Regions from separate parts of the Homo sapiens genome. Here all the other regions are linked to region 2. Evidence: fine-mapped expression QTL. A gene starts in region 2. Each other region holds a variant in brackets. All regions are shown on one strand. Distances are between the middles of the regions.

Region 1 (4,848 bases), 53 kb before region 2:
TTCCCACAGTGCTGAGGAGAGAGTTCCCGAAGCCCCACTGACCCCATCTCTCTCCTTCCCTGCAGGCAGCTTCGGTTCCTAACTTGCATCCTTCATTCCTCACCTCAGAGCTGAGACAGCTCCATGGTTCTCTGCGGTTCAGCCCTGGACAGTCACCAAGGCTCTCTACAAAGTTCTCTCCCAGTAACCCTTGTTCTCTACCCCTTCTCCCTAATCCCTCCCTCTCCACTTCATTGTTTTACTCTGAAGGGTCTCCTAATTGGCCTCTCACTGACTCCCCTCAACCCATTCTTCCAGAATAACTGTCCTCATACTACATTCAATGTGGTATTTTCCCCCTTAAAAGCATTCAGTGTGGCTCACGCCTGTAATCCCGACACTTCGGGAGGTGGAGGTGTGCGGATCAGCTGAGCTCAGGAGTTCAAGACCAGTCTGGGCAACATGGCAAAACCCATCTCTACAAAAATTTTTTTTAAAAAAATAGCCTGACATGGTGTCATACACCTATGGTCCCAACTCCTTGGGAGGCTGAGGTGGGAGGATCGCTTGAGCCTGGGAAGCAGAGGTTGCAGTGAGCTGAGATTGCGCCACGGCGCTCCACCCTGGGCAACAGAGCCAGATCTTGTCCCCTGAAAAAAAGAAGTATTCAGTGTTTTGTTACTGCCTACAGGATCACATTTAAAAATTCACTTTTCATGTTGTGAAAATGCCAATCAAAAAGAAAACAAAAAAATTCCCTTTTAGGAGGGCACATGCTGTCTCTAGCCACCCAGGCTCCCCACGTGTGGCCTAACCTGCCTTTGCAGCCTCCTTCCCACAGTTCTGTTCCCTGAACCCTCTGCTCACACCAAGCCCACATCCAGGGTCTGCACGCCCCACCTTCTGCTTTTAAATGCTTCCTTATTCTTTTTTTTTTTTATTTTTTTTTTTGAGATGGAGTCTTGCTCTGTCGCCCAGGCTAGAGTGCAATGGCGTCGTTTCGGCTCACTGCAATCACCACCTCCCGGGTTCAAGCGATTCTCCTGCGTCAGCCTCCCGAGCAGTTGGGATTACAGGCACGTGCCATCACGTCTCGCCTGACTGATTTTTGTGTTTTTAGTAGAGACGGAGTTTCACTATGTTGGCCAGGCTGGTCTCGAACTCCTGACCTCCTGATCCACCCACCCTCGGCCTCCCAGAATGCTGGTATCACAGGCGTGAGCCACTGTGCCTGGCCAATGTTCCCTTTATTATTATTATTATTATTATTTATATATGTATTTTTTGAGATGGAGTCTCGCTCTGTCGCCCAGGCTAGAGTGCAGTGGTGCGATCTCAACTCACTGCAACCTCCGCCTCCCAGGTTCAAGCGATTCTCCTGCCTCAGCCTTCTGAGTACCTGGGATTACAGACATGCATCACCACGCCCAGCTAATTGTTACATTTTTAGTAGAGACCGGGTTTCACCACATTGGCCAGGCTAGTCTCAAACTCGTGACCTCAGGTGATCCACCTGCCTCGGCCTCCCACAGTGCTGGGATTACAGGTGTGAGCCACTGTGCCCCGTGCTCTCTTATTCTTTAAGTCCCACTTCTCCAAGCCAGCCCTTAGTGACTCTGCACACCTCTGAGCCTTTCAGCACGCACTGTCTAAGCCGCTCAGTTGCCATTAAATGGAATGTGAGGGTTTTAAAAATGTATTTATTAAGCACTCTTTGGTTACCAAGTTACAGAACTCTACTATCTTAAGACAATAAGTCACCTCATTAGAAGCATAGTGGGAGACCCTTTTTGTGGTCAAGGTCAGGAATAAAGTGGATCGCTGTGCAGTAATAAGGCAGAAGTCTCTCCCGCCTTGCATCATCTCTGCGGGTCTGCTTTATTTATCTCTGTTTCCTCAATCATGTGACAAGTTTGCTGATGGGCCCCAAGTTTTATCTGTTACAGGTAAAATGCCCCTAAAAGAGGCTGCATACACTTTAAAAATTCCTATGGAAGGGGTTGAATCATTCAGCTTAAGTCAGGTCTCCATCCTTACACAGTGAACAGTAGCCAGGGGATGGAGTTCCAGGGACGTGGCAGTTCCCAGTGCAACTAACCCGGAATAGCAAGGGGGAAAGGGCAAGTCCTAGAATGGGGTATGCTCACCCACTGCATTCCACCTTTTGACACTAAGAACATGCAAACATGCTATTTCCCGTGTATCAAATTTCTTCTTCTCAATATGATTCAGTTATCACATGTAAATTGTGAATGCACTTGTCTTCCCAGTGCACAGTGACACAATGTCATGGCCAGATGCTGCATCCCAAGGCGGTGACAGGGAGCCTCTGTCTTCCAGCTGGCTGCTTTTCTAGTCCTTTCCCACTTTGTTTCCAAAGAGTTCCAGATGTGTTTTCTCATTGTTCTGCATCCCAGCACTTAGATGATCTTTTCTACCCCAATACCCCCTACACCCTCTAAATTCCTTCAGAAAAGAAGGTAGAGGAGGCCGGGCATGGTGGCTCATGCCTGTAATCCCAGCACTTTGGGAGGCTGAGGCGGGCAGATCAGGAGGTGAGGAGATGGAGACCATCTTGGCCAACATGGTGAAACCCCATCTCTACTAAAAATACAAAAATTAGCCATTCGTGGTGGTGTGAGCCTGTAGTCCCAGCTACTCAGGAGGCTGAGGCAGGAGAATA[G/C]CTTGAACCCAGGAGGCGGAGGTTACACAGTGAGCCAAGATCGCACCACTGCACTCCAGCCTGGACGACAGAGTGAGACTCCGTCTCAAAAAAAAAAAGAAAAAAAAAAGAAGTCTATTCCCATCAGTGCCGGAACCAGTAGGAATTCAATTCTGTGGAGGGCAAGGCCTTGCTTTGTTCCCCAGCTGTGTCCCTGCTGCTTAGAACTGCAAATGGCATACAGTAATCACTCAACAAATATCTGTAGCGTGACTAACACTTAGGCTTGTGGGTTGCCTTGGGGGGCAGTTATCGGCCCTGGTGCCAGGTTTGGGGTTTTCATGGTGCTATGACTCCTTTCATACCTTGCCTGGCTAATGGTTTCGCCTTTGTTGCCTGTTACTAATGCATTTACTGCTGCCAGGAATCTTGTCAAGTCATAGGCTTTGATTAGCATAGGCCTGCGAAAGGGAACTTCCGGGGCTGGAACTGCAGCAGCTTGGTACAGCCTCAGGGTAGGGAGGCTCACCCTCCAGCCAAGTGCTCTCCGTGGGTGGAAACATTATCACATCTGTTAGCTATGCTATGGAGTGGCCCTGGGATTAGGGTGTCCCTAATTTCTCTGGCATCTGTTAAATACCCCTATTCCAGTAGCCCAGGCTGGAGTGCAGTGGCGTGATCTTGGCTCACTGCAACCTCCGCCTCCTGGGTTCAAGCGATTCTCCTGCCTCAGCCTCCCAGGTAGCTGGGATTATAGGTGCCCATCACCGCACCTGGCTAATTTTTTTGGGGTGGGGGACAGAGTCTCACTGTGTCACCCAGGCTGGAGTGCAGTGGCACCATCTCGGCTCACTGCAAGCTCCGCCTCCCGGGTTCACGCCATTCTCCTACCTCAGACTCCCAAGTAGCTGGGACGACAGGCGCCCACCACCACACCCGGCCAATTTTTTGTATTTTTAGTAGAGACGGGGTTTCACCATGTTAGCCAGGATGGTCTCGATCTCCTGGCCCTGTGATCCGCCCGCCTCAGCCTCCCAAAGTGCTGGGATTATAGGCGTGAGCCTCCAAGCCCAGCTAATTTTTTGTATTTTTAGTAGAGATGGGGTTTCTCCATGTTGGTCAGGCTGTTCTCAAACTCCTGACGTCAGGTGATCCGCCCGCCTCAGCCTCCCAAAGTGCTGAGATTATAGGTGTGAGCCACCGCACCCGGCCCACAGTTTCTAAAGTAGTAATTTAGTTCTAGAAACAGCAGGGAATATGATTATAAGAGCAGTCACAATGTTCTCAATTATTGGACTCCCTGGCTTCAGACAGAAACAGTTGTGTCCTGTCTATTTTTTTTTTTTTTTTTTTGAGATGGAGGCTCGCTGTGTCACCCAGGCTGGAGTGCAGTGGTGCGATCTCGGCTCCCTGCAAGTTCTGCCTCCCAGGTTCATGCCATTCTCCTGCCTCAGCCTCCTGAGTAGCTGGGACTACATGCGCACACCACCATTCCCCGCTAATTTTTGTGTTTTTAGTAGAGATGGAGTTTCACTATGTTGGCCAGGCTGGTCTCGAACTCCTGACCTTGTGATCCTCCCGCCACCATGCCCAGCCAATTTTTATATTTTTAGTAGAGACGGGGTTTCACCATGTTGCCCAGACTGGTCTCGAACTCCTGACCTCAGGTGATCTGCCGTCCTCAGCCTTCCAAAGTGTTGGGATTACAGGCATGAGCCACTGCGCCCTGCTTCTTTTTTTTTTTTTCTTCTTTGGGGGGCATAGGGTTTCGCTCTGTTGCCCAGGCTGGAGTGTAGTGGTGTGATCTTGACTCACTGCAACCTCCACCTCCTGGCCTCAAATAATCCTCCCATCTCAGCCTCCTGAGTAGCTGGGCCACCATGGCCAGCTAATTTTTTGTATTTTTGTAAAGACGGGGTTTCACTATGTTGCCCAGGCTGGTCTTGAACTCCTGGGCTCAGGCGATCCACCCGCCTCAGCCTCCCAAAGTGTTGGAATTACAGGCGTGAGCCACTGTTCCCGGCCAAACTTAAGTCCTTGAGAACTAGAATGTGTATTTTGTTCACTACTATGTCACCAGACCTGGAGCAGTGCCCAGCACTCAGCAAATGTCTTCCTGAATGGATTAGTGTAGCACCAAGAGAAAGACTAATGTCTCCCCCACCCCTCCTCTCTTTTCTTACCCAAAACAAAATAGCTGGAGACAG
Region 2 (5,169 bases):
TCACCATAACCTCCACCTCCCGGGTTCAAGAAATTCTCCTGCCTCAGCCTCCTAGTAGTTGGGATTACAGGCATATGCCAGCACGCCCCACTAATTTTGTATTTTTAGTAGAGACAGGGTTTTGCCACGTTGGCCAGGCTGGTCTGGAACTCCTGACCGCAGGTGATATGCCCACCTCGGCCTTCCAAAGTGCTGGGATTACAGGCATGAGCAACCATGCCCAGACAGCCTGGCTTATTTTTTAAGAAAAAATTTTTTAGAGATAAGGTCTATGTTGCCCAGGCTGGTCTTGAACTCCTGGGATCAAGCGATCCTCCCACCTCAGCCTCCCAAAGTGCTGGGGGCTACAGGTGTGAGCCACCACACCTGGCGTGTATTTGTGTTTATTAATATTAAAATTTTTTGAGATGGAGTCTCACTCTGTCACCCAGGCTGGAGTGCAGTGGCACAATCTTGGCTCACTGCAACCTCCGCCTGCCGGGTTCAAGCGATTCTCCTGCCTCTGCCTCCTGAGTAGCTGGGACTACAGGCGCACCCCACTAGGCCCAGACAATCTTTTTTTTTTTATTTTTTTGAGAGGGAGTCTCGCTCTGCCGCCCAGGGTCGCTCGGCCTCCCGGGTTCACGCCATTCTCCTGCCTCAGCCTCCCGAGTAGCTGGGACTACAGGCGCCCGCCACCATGCCCGGCTAATTTTTTGTATTTTTAATAGAGATGGGGTTTCACCATGCTGGCCAGGCTCGTCTCGAACTCCTGACCTCAGGTGATCCGCCCTCCTCAGCCTCCCAAAGTGCTGGTATTACAGACGTGAGCCACCATGCCCGGCCCCAGCCTGTATCTCACAAATGTTAACACACACATTAGTGGGAGACCAATCATTACAATCCATTATGATAGAGGGGACTTCCCCAAAATGAAGATTAACAGTACATACAGGCCTGGCGCGTTGGCTCATGCCTGTAATCCCAGCACTTTGGGAGGCCCAGGTGGGAAGATCACCTGAGGTCAGGAGTTCAAGACCAGCCAGGCCAATATGGTGAGACCCTGCCTCTACTAAAAAAAATACAAAAATTAGCCGGGCTTGGGGCGCGAGTCTGTAATCCCAGCTTCTAGGGAGGCTGAGGCAGGAGAATCACTTGAACCCGGGGCGGAGGTTGCAGTGAGCCGAGATCGCGCCCTTGCACTCCAGCCTGGGCGACAGAGTGAGACTCCGTCTCAAAAAAAAAAAAAAGAAAAAAAGAAAAAAACACAGTTCATAAAGTGAACGACCTTGTCAAAACACTGGTTGGAAGCAGGTCTCTTCCCTCCGCACTGTTTCCTATCATATAGCCTTAAGCATTTCCCTCAGGGTTAAAAAAAAAAAAAGTGACAAGGCTGGTTTGTTTTTTTTTTTTCTTTTTCCAGAGGGAGTCTCGCCCTGTCGCCCATGCTGGAGTGCAAAGGCGCGATCTCGGCTAACTGCAACCTCCGCCTCCGGGTTCAGCTTCCCGAGTAGCTGGGATTACAGGCGCGCGCCACCACGTCCGGCTAATTTTCTATTTTTAGTAGAGACCGGGGTTTCACCATTTTGGCCAGGCTAGTCTCGGACTCCTGACCTCAGGTGATCCGGCCGCCTCGGCCTCCCAAAATACTGGGATTACAGGCGTGAGCCACTGCCCCTGGCCACAAGGCTGTTTTCAATCCTTGCACAGATCTCTGTCCGACTAGGCACAGTGAATACCCTTGGAAAACAGGGAATGCTGAGGTGGGAGGCAAAGAGCCAGGGCGTTCAAGAAGGCAGCGCGCAGGCAAGCGGGCAGTGCCCAAGACCCGAGCAAAAGTCACATGAGCTGCGGGGCAAATCTCCGTCCTCAGGCCGACCTCTTGGATCTGGTGACTTGGAGCAAGGGACCTTCCTGCGGCATCTGGGCGGCTCAAGGCCCGCGGCCTTCCCTAGGCGGGCTCCAGCCCACTCCCCGGGACTGCCGCCGCGGCTTCGTAAGACCCAACCAAGCCCCTCACCTGCTTTTGCACGTCAGCATCGCTGAGAGCCATGGCGAGAGCAATGCTAGGCCGGTGAACAGTAGGCTCGAGTTTAGGTTTGAAAGGTGAGGTGAGAGAAATCGGCAAAGGGAACCCCTGCGCAGATCTCGGGTTCCTTTACTTTATAACCGCGGGTTCCGGTTCCTGCCAGGTGACTGCACAGTTCATCCTCATGACCCTTCTCAGCCAATGGGAAGAGAGCGACGCCCAGGAAGTCCCGCCCTGTCCCGGCCTGTGGGCGCGTCCTCGGGTCCTTCTACGTCGCTGACTCGTGACCTGACCGGTATTTTTTTCCTAAACTGGGATCTTGGGTAGGAGGAAGAAAAGATAAGGAGTTCCTCTATCTGAAATTAGTCGGGCTGTTTTGAGGAGTACTGGTTAGGTATATTGGAGAATGTGCCTTTATTGGAATTTTTCGCATAATTACACAGGGTTATGGGCTTAGGGGTACATGATTGTTGGCCGGGCGTGGTGGCTCACGCCTGCAATCCGGAGACTTTGGGAGACCAAGGCGGGTGTATCGCTTGACCTCAAGTTCGAGACCAGGCTGGACAACATAGAGGAACCCCGTCTCTACCAAAAGAAAAAAAAAAGGGGGATACATGATTTCTGACTATTCATGTCAACCTTGATTACCTGAATAAAGTGTAGGGTTTGTAGGTTTCTCCACTCTGAAGTTACCTTTTTTAACCCCCTTTCCATACTGTAGTCTTAGGAAGGAAGCCACTATACAAAGCCCACACCTAGGGAGTGGGAAGCTATGCTCAACTTCCTTATTAGGGTGGAGCAGCTACATAATTTATTTGGAACTTTTCTGAGATAGCCTATATATTTTTCAAAAGCCTTCCCAGGTCCCATTTAGAGGAATATTAGGACAGAAATCCCCCCAGGCTCATTTGTTTTTATTTGGATTTACCTCAAGCCCGTTTTTTTCCCCAAAATCCCAAAGGCAAAAACTTTTGAAAATTCCTTTATCTTTAGGATAGACTGACTCCTAATAGTAGAATAAGAGGTCAAATGGTACACCCACTTTTTTCTTTTTACTGTGCTATGGTTACCCACCATTTTTATTAGCTTTTTATCTTGAAGAAATTTGAGATATAGTAACTTGTAAGAATACTGCATTGACCTCCCTTCACCTAGATTCAACAATTGTTAACATTTTGCTACATGTACATTAACACTTTATTTTCATACACACACACACACACACACACACACACACTTCCTATTTTAGTGTGTCATAAGAACGAGGATGTAGCAAATTCAGGAAATTTAGTTTACTAGGCTGAACATTAATTTCCTTTGTCCCGGGCCAGGCGCGGTGTCTCACGCCTGTAATCCCACCACTTTGGGAGGCTGAGGTGGGCAGATCACCTGAGGTCGGGATTTCGAGACCAGCCTGACCAACATGGAGAAACCCCAGTCTCTACTAAAAATACAAAATTAACAGGCGTGGTGGTGTGTGCCTGTAATCCCAGCCACTGGAGAGGCTGAGGCAGGAGAATTGCTTCAACCCAGGAGCAGAGGTTGCGGTGAGCCAAGATCGTGCCACTGCACTCCAGCCTGGGCAATAAGAGTGAGACTCCGTCTCAAAAAAACAAAAAAAAAAAAAACAAATTCCTTTGTCCCATCAATCCATCAATGTACTTTATAACCCTTTCTTTTTTTTTTGAGACAGAGTCTCACTCTGTCGCCCAGGCTGCAGTGCAACGGCATGGTGTCAGCTCACTACAACCTCTGCCTCCCGGGATCAAGTGATTCTCCTCCCTCAGCCTCCCAAGCAGCTGGGATTACAGGTGCCTGCCACCATGCATGGCTAATTTTTGTATTTTTAGTAGAGATGAGGTTTCACTGTGTTGGCCAGGCTGGTCTTGAACTGCTGACCTCGTGATCCACCTGCCTCGGCCTCCGAGAGTGCTGGGATTACAGGTGTGAGCCACTGCACCCGGCCTTCTTTTTCTTTTCTTTTTTTTTTTTTTTTTGAGATGGAGTCTCGCTCTGTTGCCCAGGCTAGAGTGCAGTGGCAGAATCTCGGCTCACCACAACCTCCGCCTCCCGGGTTCAATTGATTCTCCTGCCTCAGCCTCCCCAGTAGCTGAGATTACAGGCATCTGCCACCACGCCCAGCTAATTTTTGCATTTTTAGTAGAGATGGGGTTTCAACACATTGGCCAGGGTGGTCTTGAACTCCCGACCTCAGGTGATCTGCCTGCCTCCACCTCCCAAAGTGCTGGGATTACAGACGTGAGCCACCGCGCCCAGCCATAACCTTTTTTTAATAACCTTACTTTTTAACCTTTTATAACCTTCTTATAACCTTACTTTATAACCTTTATAACCTGGATTGGATCCAGGGTCACTTACTGCATTAGTGATCATGTCTTTTTAGTCTCCTTTAATATGGAAGAGTTTCCTCAGACTTATCTTTCTTGATAGTGACATTTTGAAGAATATAGGCCAGTTGTAGAAAATCACTCAATTTTTTTTTTTTTTGAGACAGAAGAGTGTCGCTCATGCTGGAGTGCAGTGGTGCAAACTCGGCTCACTGCAACCTCCACCTCCTGGGTTCAAGAGATTTTCCTGCCTCAGCCTCTCCAGTAGCTGGGATTACAAGCGCCCGCCACCACGCCCCGCTAATTTTTTCTTTTTGGTAGAAACAGGGTTTTGCCACATTGGCCAGGCTGTTCTTGGAACTCCTGAGCTCAGATGATCTGCCTGCCTTGGCATCCCAAAGTGCTGGGATGACAGGTGTGAGCCACCACGCCCAGCCTCAATTGGGTTTTGACAGTTTCCTCATAATTAGATTCAGGTTACGCATTATAGCAGGAGTACTACATGTGTGATATTGTGTCCTCTTTGCAACACATCAGAAAGTACATGATGTCCGTTTGTCCCTTTTTTTCAATTTTATTTTTAAAATTGAGACAGAGTCCTACAGTGTTTGTCAGGCTAGTCTCGAACTCCTGGGCTCAGGGGATCCTCCCACCTCAGCTCTTTGTCCTTTTAGTAGGAATGGTACGTGTGTGTATGTATGTGTGTGTGTGTATATATATATATATATATATATATATATATATATATTTTTTTTTTTTTTTTTTTTTTTTTTTTTTTTGAGATGGAGTTTCGCTATTGTTGCCCAGGCTGGA
Region 3 (4,000 bases), 35 kb before region 2:
AGTCCAAAAACTTCCTGTTGGCATTTGCACCAAACAAGGCTCCCCGGACTTCTGGCATCATCTGTGGAGAGAAAGTGTAATAAATACGCAATGTCAGCTGAAGAAGTTGTAGAGCGCTGCACATCTTTTTTTTTTTTTTTTTTTTGAGACGGAGTCTCGCTCTGTCGCCCAGGCTGGAGTGCAGTGGCGCATCTCCGCTCATTGCAAGCTCACGCCATTCTCCTGCCTCAGCCTCCCAAGTAGATGGGACTACAGGTGCTTGCCACCATGCCTGGCTAATTTTTTTGTATTTTTAGTAGAGACGGGGTTTCACCATGTTAGCCGGGATGGTCTCGATCTCCTGACCTCGTGATCCACCCGCCTCGGCCTCCCACAGTGCTGGGATTACAGGCGTGAGCCACCAAGCCTGGCCAGAGTGCTGCACATCTTAACCACAGGTGGAAAGCCATGAACCTCTATGTGGCTGGGAAGGACTCACAAAGCCACGCACATCAAAGCCACCCTCTCCTTCCCTGAAGCAAGTAACACATTCCTTGGTGAGAAACTTAACTCATCCCAAATCTGGGGTTCAGACTGCTTACAAAAGGGACACATTAAAAAAAAACAAAACAAAAAAAAACCTAAAGTCACTACTATCTCAGACTTAACTCATCATAATCATCTCACCACAATATGCTGGGTCACCTACACTCTTTCTTCAACAAACATTTACTGAGTGCCTACTATGGCCACAGCAGCTGCAAAGAACACTTCCAATGCCAGCTTAGGCTGGAAGCACTTGCTACAGCCACTGATGAATCCTTAGGAGAACTTAACCCTGGACTTCCAAGGCTCGGCTGTCCAACAGGGCAGTCCTAGCTACAGATGGTTATTGTGTGCTGAGAAACTGAATTTTTCGGTTTAATTAAATATCCGTAAGTGAGTAGTGGCTATGATACTGGATGGGACAGTGGCTACTAGGAAACAATGTTCTGAGGTTTAAGTTACCAGAATATGAAAAAATCAAGGTGAAAGTGCTTTAGTTATAAGACAAGTATCTGCATAAACAGTAAACTGCATATCTAGGTCAGGGAATAACTAGGTTGGCAGCCACAGCAATAGACTCCCACTAGAAGTCTAGAAGATGCCCAGCATTTTAGAACAAATGGAATTTTCCTGGCTTGTTTCCTAGAGTTCCTGTGTACAAATCTGGAAACATCTGAAAAGCCAGCAGCTTTATGATAATTCCTTTAAATAAGTATTTGTGTCTGAGCACGGTGGCTCACACCTGTAATCCCAGCACTTTGGGAGGCCAAGGCGGGTGGATCACCTGAGGTCAGGAATTTGATAACAGCCTGGCCAACATGGTGAAACCCCGTCTCTACTAAAAATACAAAATTAGCCGGGTGTGGTGGCAGGTGCCTGTAATCCCAGCTACTCGGGAGGCTGAAGCAGGAGAATCGCTTGAACCTGGGAGGTGGAAGTTGCAGTGAGCCAAGACTGCACTCCAGCCTGCGCAAAAAAGAGTGAAACTCCATCTCAAAAAAGCAAAACAAAACAAAAAAACACAAGTATTTGCTTTAGTTCCCATCACTCCTGTTAGAGAAAGAACTTGTCAGCACCTTACATGTAGTAAAATGTACATATTCGAATCCTAGGTCAACAAAACACTTGTTCTGACCCCAAATTCACCCTCATGTAAATGTTACCACCTCAGCAAATGCTACTACATGCCCAATTCTCATTCTTTTTGAGAAAATGTCCAAAACTGGAAAGACAGCAACAAATCCCAAATACCAGTGAATGGACACGTGTTCTCTGTCCCACTTCAAAGTAACAGCAGACCAACTACCAAGAAGTACCCCCACACTCACCTGCTGGGCTATGAGATCCAGCCGGCTTTCCAGGGTGTTGGAAACCTTTATTTTACGATCTCCATTATAGATCTCAACTCCACCAGCTCTGCAAAAAAAAAAGCACAGGAAATAATCATTTTCAAAGACTTGAGAAAGATACATGGTACCCTTTACTCCCGCAGAGGAATGCCCTTGTCTTGGTGTGTAGACTGCGCAACCTAAGCAACAGGCTTGAAAGGAACTGAAAAAGCTTCTGAAGATGTAACGCACAGTTGGTTTCAGGAAACCCCAGTCCCCGCCTAGATGTCCATTATATGAAACAGCGTAGTATTTGCATACAACCATCACACATCCTCCCCTATATTGCAAATCATGTCTACAGCACTTAAAATAGCTAATACGATGTAAATGGTTGTTATACCGTAGTGTTTAGGGAGTGAAAA[G/T]AAAAAGTTGGTTGAATTCACAGGTGTGGACCCCAAAGATACAGAGAACTGACTGTATTCATCTCAATAACTGTCATTTACCAAGTGACACTATGTGTCAATTTGTTTTGTTTTTTTTGAGACTCGCTCTGTTGCCCAGGCAGGAGTGCAATGGTGCGATCTTGGCTCACTGCAACCTCTGCCTCCCGAGTTCAAGCAATTCTCCTGCGTCAGCCTCCCCAGTAGCTGGGATTACAGGCACCTGCCATCACGCCTGGCTAATTTTTGTATTGTTGTAGAGACGGGGTTTCACCATGTTGGCCAGGCTGGTCTTGAACTCCTGACCTCAGGTGATCCGCCCACCTCTGCCTCCACAAGTGTTGGGATTACAGGAGTGAGTCACCGCGCCCAGCCTGTGTCAATTTGATTTTATGTTACAAAACCTGTTTTAATTATCACAGCCAGCCCTCCCCAACAAAATGAAAAAGAGAGGATTTCATCTCAGTTTGCAAATCACTCAATCCTCATCTGAATGTTTTCTTAAGCCCAATCCTGCTCATTACTGATGAGGCCCTATCACGACTGCATGTGTGTCTGATAAAAGATGCCACTGCTGGCCGGGCGTGGTAGCTCACCCCTGTAATCCCAGCACTTTGGGAGGCCGAGGTGCTCCCAAACTCAAGTTTGAGGCCAGCCTGGCCAACATGGCGAAAGCCTGTCTCCACTAAAAATACAAAAATTAGCTGGGCATGGTGGGGCGTGCCTGTAGTCCCAGCTACTTGAGAGACTGAGGCAGGAGAATTGCTTGAACCCAGGAGGCAGAGGTTGCAGCAAGCCGAGATCACACCACTGCACTCCAGCTTGGGTGACAGAAAGAGACCCTTACTCAAAATACAACAACAACAACAAAAAAAGAGGCTGGGTGCGGTGGCTCACGCCTGTAATCCCAGCTCTTTGAGAGGCCGAGGTGGGCAGATCACGACATCAGGAGATTGAGACAATCCTGGCTAACAAGGTGAAACCCCGTCTCTACTAAAAATACAAAAAAAATTAGCGAGGCATGGTGGCGGGTGCCTGTAGTCCCAGCTAATCGGGAGGCTAAGGCAGGAGAATGGTGTGAACCTGGGAGGTGGAGCTTGCAGTGAGCCGAGGTCGTGCCACTGCACTCCAGCCTGGGTGAGAGTGAGACTCTGTCTCAAAAAATAAATAAATAAATAAATAAGATAAAAAATGCTATGAGGTTAGTGCTAATACGTCAATTTACAGATAAGGGAATCAGGGCTCACTACTATGGTTTGAGTCTGTTCCCTCAGAAACTAATGGTGAAATTTGATTCTCAATGTGGCAGTGTTGGGAGGTGGAGCATAGTAGGAGGTGTTCAGGGCTCAAGGGCAGATCCCGAGGCAATGAACTGTGGCGAGGGCCTGGATTCTAGCTCCGGCAGGACTCGACTGTGAGCAGAGGGTGGGCTGGTATGATAGGGAGTCTGGTTCCCTAGGCTCTCTGGCCTCCTCTCTCGCCATGTGGTCTCTATGCACACACCCACTCCCCTTCCACCTTCTGCCATGAGTGGAAGCAGCCTGAGGCCCTCACCAGATGCAGCTGTCCAATCTTGAACTTTCCAGCCATGAGAATCATGAACCAAATAAACCTCTTTTCTCCATGAATTACCCAGCCTCGGGTATTCTGTTATAGCAACACTAAATGGACGACACCACTCAATGAAACTGAATAAACGAGTCC
Region 4 (5,182 bases), 55 kb after region 2:
TGAGCATTTTATGAGCATATGTGTATATACACATACATACATACGTACGTACATGTACATACAAAGTGCTTAGTATAGTGCCCCCAGCACTTGATATTAGCCATTATTGTGTATTGTTATCACTAAAACTAACTTGGGTGAAATTGGACTGTCAAATGACAGAGGTACTGCTTTCAGGCTTCAGCAGTATCTTTTTTTGTACCTTAGTACTTGCAAAGATATATAATTATCTTGCTGTATTTAGAAAACTTAGTAGCAAAATAGAATTAACCAGTAATAAGCATGAGAGACTGGTGATGAGCATAACTCATAAATCTAATGTGATTGGTACAAAGAAATCGTTATGCCCACAGTGGTGGAATTTTAGCCTCAGTTGTGTGCTTTGTGGACTTAAGCAGCAGTCAACTAACTGTTGTGGGCAGGGTTGGGGGAAGAAAAGAAAGAAAATTACAAAGCATGTATAAAATGCTAGAAGTATATCATCTAAAAATGTGTCCAAAAGTGAGATACAATTAGGGATCTATATAATTTGAAGTGGGGGGAATGGACATCTCCCACCACCACTGAAATATTAATAGCATGAATTCTTTTTGTTTTTATCATATTCCATCTTCATACTTTTTAAAAAGGATACATTGTCTACAAAAAGAGAGGACTGGCCCGACTTATTGATACATCTTTCCCAACCTCCTCTTGAGTTAATGTGTTTCTGAAGATTCAGCTCAATTTCCCTGTTTCTGGCAGAAACATCTGGAAAGGTGGAGACTTACTCACTCTCAATCCATAGGCCCAAATATTTCTACTAAAGGTTGTTTTTGATTTTTGTTTTTTAATTATTGCAAAAAGGATTTCCTCCCGTCCCTAATTTTGATAATGAATTTTGATTTTGCATTTTTTGGCTTAACAAATTGCTATTGTAGGGCTGGGTGCAGTGGCTTACGCCTGAAATCCCAGCACTTTGGGAGGCCGAGGCAGGCGGATCACAAGGTCAGGAGTTCGAGACCAGCCTGGCCAACATAGTGAAACCTGTCTCTACTAAAAATACAAAAAAATTAGCCAGGCGTGGTGGCAGGCGCCTATAATCCCAGTTACTTGGGAGGCTGAGGCAGGAGAATCGCTTGAACCTAGGAGGCAGAGGTTGCAGTGAGCGGAGATCATGCCATTGCACTCCAGCCCCAGTGACAGTGCGAGACTCCGTCTCAAAAAAAAAAAAAAAAGTGCTATTATATTCTAATGGTTTCTCTCTCCCTCTTTCAATAATAACCTTTTTTGTTGCTTTCAGGGGTTCAACTAGATATAGCTTCACAATCTCTGGATCAAGAAATTTTATTAAAAGTTAAAACTGAAATTGAAGAAGAGCTAAAATCTCTGGACAAAGAAATTTCTGAAGGTCTGTTTATTCTTATTTTTCTAGTTAATAAGCAGATTGTGTTTGTTATGGTTTACTGTTGGTTTAATTTGATTTTTACAGTGGGGTATTCTCAACAGTTAACAACTTACACCAATTATACATTGGTAGAAGTTTATAAGGGTAAAACTAGAAGGTAGCCTTTTTTCTTTCCTGGAGGATATGTTGATGGAAGTTCCCCAACTATACCTAACAGGTTAGATGTAGCAGTTTCTCATGTTAAGTATCGGATAAATGATCATGTTAAGGTTCTTTCCATTCACTATGGTTTGATTTGTATTTAGTATTACCTTTATAAGTAATAACGACATAAAAAGGAAAAAGTAAGCATACGCTTTTATTTTTGCATACATATATACTATAGATAACTGTAATTATAATGTACATTCAACTTTATAGCCATTTTATTTTGCACTTAACATTACAACATAAACTTTAAAAATAGTTACTCTACTAACTGCGTGAAATTTCATTCACTGAATAAATGTTTTTACTCAGTCATTCCATTATTATTATTATTATTATTATTATTATTATTATTATTACTATTTCAGAGACAGGGTCTTGCTCTGTTGCCCAGGCTGGAGTGCAGTAGTGAGCACTGGGATTACAGGTGTAAGCCACCATGCCTGGCCTGTTCCCTTGTTATTGAGGGGAGCATTTGGATTATTATTCCTTTTTTCACTGGACGACGACTACACAGCATTTGCATTATTTCCGGTTTTGTCTTCCATAGGTAATGCTGCACTGAACATCTTACCCAATGATATAAATATATTTTTACAGCTTTATTGAGATATATTTTACATACCATAAAATTCACCCATTTAAAAGGTCCAGTTCAGTCTGGGCACAGGGACTCATGCCTGTAATTCTAGCACTGTGGGAGGCCAAGGCCTCAGGAGGGTTGCTTGAGCCCCTGAGTTCAAAACCACACTGGGCAACATAGGGAGACCATGTCTCTATTTATTAAATAAATAATAATAATAATAAAGTACAATTCAGTGGTTGTAGTGTATTCACAGAATTTATCACCATGATCTAAATTTAGAACACTTTCGGTTCTCCTTAAAGAAACACAATACACATTAGCAGCCACTTCCCATTCCCACTAGCCCCAGGCCCCAACCCCACCCCACACCAGGCACCCACTGATCTCCATTCTGTTTTTATTGATTTGCCTATTCTGGAAATATACATAAATAGAATAGTTCACTATGTGGTGGTGGTGGTGGTGTTTTGAGATGCAGTTTCGCTCTCATTGCCCAGGCTGGAGTGCAGTGGCACCATCTCGGCCCACCACAACCTCCATCTCCCAGGTTCAAATGATTCTCCTGTCTCAGCCTCCTGAGTAGCCAGGATTACAGGTATG[T/C]GCCACCAAACCTGGCTAATTTTTTGTATTTTTTTTTTTTTTGACAGAGTCTGGCTCTTTGCCCAGGCTGGAGTGCGGTGGCGGGATCTTGGCTCACTGCAAGCTCCGCCTCCTGGGTTCAGGCCATTCTCCTGCCTCAGCCTCCCGAGTAGCTGGGACTACAGGCGCCTGCCACCACACCCGACTAATTTTTTGTATTTTTAGTAGAGACGGGGTTTCAGCGTGTTAGCCAGGATGGTCTCGTTGATCTCCTGACCTTGTTTTCTGCCCGCCTTGGCCTCCCAAAGTGCTGGGATTACAGGCATGAGCCACCACGCCCGGCCTGTAATTTTTTGTACGTTTAATAGAGACAAGGTTTCTCCATGTTGCTCAGGCTGGTCTTGAACTCCTGACCTCAGGTGATCCGCCCACCTCGGTCTCCCAAAGTGCTGGGATTAAAGGCGTGATCCACTGCGCCTGGCCACTATGTGGTCTTTTGTGACTGGCATTTTTTACTTAGCATAATGTATTTTTGTTGTTGTTGCTGTTTTTTAAGACATCGCCTTGCTCTGTTGCACAGGCTGGCATGCAGTGGCATGATCTGGGCTCACTGCAACCTCCGACTTTAAGGTTCAAGCAATTCTCCAGCCTCAGCCTCTTGAATAGCTGGGATTACAGGTACCCACCACCACGCCCAGCTAATTTTTGTTTTTAGTAGAGACGGGGTTTCACCATATTGGCCAGGCTGGTCTCCAACTCCTGACCTCAAATGATCCACCTGTCTCGGCCTCCCAGAGTGCTGGGATTACAGGCGTGAACAACTGCACCTGGCCGACTTAGCATAATGTTTTCAAGGGTCATCCATGTTGTAGCATGTATCAGTACTTCATTACTTTTTACAGTCAAATAATATTCCACTGTGTGGATGTGTCATATTTTGTTTATTCATTCATTAGTTAATGGAAATTTAGGTTGTTTCTACTTGTTTACTATTATGTATAATGCTGCTGTGAATATTCTTGTGCAAGTTTTTGTGTGGACATATATTGCCCAATAATTTTTTCTTTTTCTTTTTTTTTTTTTTTTTTTTTTTTTTTTTGAGACAAAGTCTCGCTCTGTTGCCCAGGCTGGAGTGCAGTGGCGGGATCTCGACTCACTGCAAGCTCCGCCTCCCAGCTTCACGCCATTCTCCTGCCTCAGCCTCCTGAGTAGCTGGAGCTACAGTGCCCACCACCACACCCAGCTACTCTTTTGGTAATTTTTAGTAGAGACGGGGTTTCACCGTGTTAGCCAGGATGTTCTTGATCTCCTGACCTCATGACCCGCCCACCTCAGCCTCCCAAAGTGCTGGGATTACAGGCGTGAGCCACCGTACCCAGCCTGCCCAATAATTTTTAATGATCAAAATTATAAATTATGTTCATAACTCATGTTCCTCGTTAGTAGAGAAAAAACACAGATAGAAATGTACAAATAATCCCGAGACCAGGTGCGGTGCCTGTAGTCCCAGCACTTTGGGAGGCTGAAGTGGGTGGATCACTTGAGGCCAGGAGTTTGAGATGACCCCAGCCAACATGGTGAAACCCTGCCTCTATAAAAATACAAAAAAATTAGCCAGGCATGGTGGTGCACACCTGTAATTCCAGCTACCTCGGAGGCTAAGGCATGAGAATCTCTTGAACCCAGGAAGCATAGGTTGTAGTGAGCCAAGATCATGCCACTGTACTCCAGGCTGGGTGACAGAGTGAGACCATTTAAAAAAAATGAAATGTACAAATAATCCTGAAACCTAATGTTAGTCTTGTCTTTTATATTTCTTTTTTTTTCTTTTTTTTTTTGAGACAGAGTCTCGCTCTGTCACCCAGGCTGGAGTGCAGTGGTGCGATCTCAGTTCACTGCAACCTCCGCCTCCCGAGTTTAAGTGATTCTCCTGCCTCAGCCTCCTGAGTAGCTGGGATTATAGGCGCCCGCCACCATGCCTGGCTAATTTTTGTATTTTTAGTAGAGGTGGGGTTTCACCACGTTGGTCAGGCTGGTCTCGATCTCCTGACCTTGTGATCTACCCGCCTCGGCCTCCCAAAGTGCTGGGATTACCGGTGTGAAACACTGTGCCCGACCATTATATTTCTTTATCAACATTTTGAAATGATTAAATTTCTGATTCTCTTCATGTATATTCTGGTAACAGCACTGCTGCATAGTAAAATGGGCAAAAGGTAGAAAGAAGAAGAGAGTAACAAAAGGTTTAAAATACGTTCACTTATTGAACCCCATATTATCTAAGTTAGACCATTAAAATGGATGCTCTCCAGCTTGCTCAAACAACAAAGTATTTGTGAACTTTGCAGCCATTTGCATCTTTCTCGGAGGCAAGCACTTTATAAAGAAACACATACTTTATAGTAAAATTTGCAGCCTTATAG

Direction of the effects. Alleles are on the strand shown, and positions count from the first base shown. SD is a standard deviation of normalised expression in the study named. Not every link is listed here.
As copies of G replace C in region 1, the expression in stomach of the gene that starts at base 2,146 in region 2 goes up (small effect, 0.18 SD a copy in GTEx).

Evidence for each region. PIP is the estimated chance that this variant, and not a neighbour inherited with it, causes the effect. A credible set is the group of variants that fine-mapping cannot tell apart.
Region 1: its variant is the best candidate, but not a certain one, in a credible set for the expression of ATP6V1E1 in stomach (GTEx, PIP 0.77).
Region 3: its variant is the best candidate, but not a certain one, in a credible set for the expression of ATP6V1E1 in whole blood (TOPMed, PIP 0.60).
Region 4: its variant is the best candidate, but not a certain one, in a credible set for the expression of ATP6V1E1 in whole blood (TOPMed, PIP 0.81).

The regions. Positions count from the first base shown.
Region 1 is chr22:17,573,605-17,578,452 of GRCh38, forward strand. The region is part of intron 2 of SLC25A18 (solute carrier family 25 member 18); the gene reads left to right. Among named protein-coding and RNA genes, the nearest start is that of SLC25A18, 13 kb to the left of the region's middle. The variant G/C (reference allele first, on the strand shown) is at 2,663.
Region 2 is chr22:17,626,604-17,631,772 of GRCh38, forward strand. ATP6V1E1 (ATPase H+ transporting V1 subunit E1) reads right to left here and starts at 2,146. Exons shown (of 9, transcript NM_001696.4): 1 at 2,000-2,146. The coding sequence starts at 2,032. It also overlaps a transcript of BCL2L13 not described here. RefSeq lists enhancers at 1,841-1,990, 2,071-2,160, 2,102-2,271.
Region 3 is chr22:17,592,676-17,596,675 of GRCh38, forward strand. It overlaps ATP6V1E1 (ATPase H+ transporting V1 subunit E1), which reads right to left. Exons shown (of 9, transcript NM_001696.4): 8 at 1,854-1,941; 9 at 1-61. Among named protein-coding and RNA genes, the nearest start is that of SLC25A18, 31 kb to the left of the region's middle. The variant G/T (reference allele first, on the strand shown) is at 2,279.
Region 4 is chr22:17,681,932-17,687,113 of GRCh38, forward strand. BCL2L13 (BCL2 like 13) reads left to right here. Exons shown (of 7, transcript NM_015367.4): 3 at 1,283-1,390. Among named protein-coding and RNA genes, the nearest start is that of BCL2L13, 46 kb to the left of the region's middle. The variant T/C (reference allele first, on the strand shown) is at 2,781.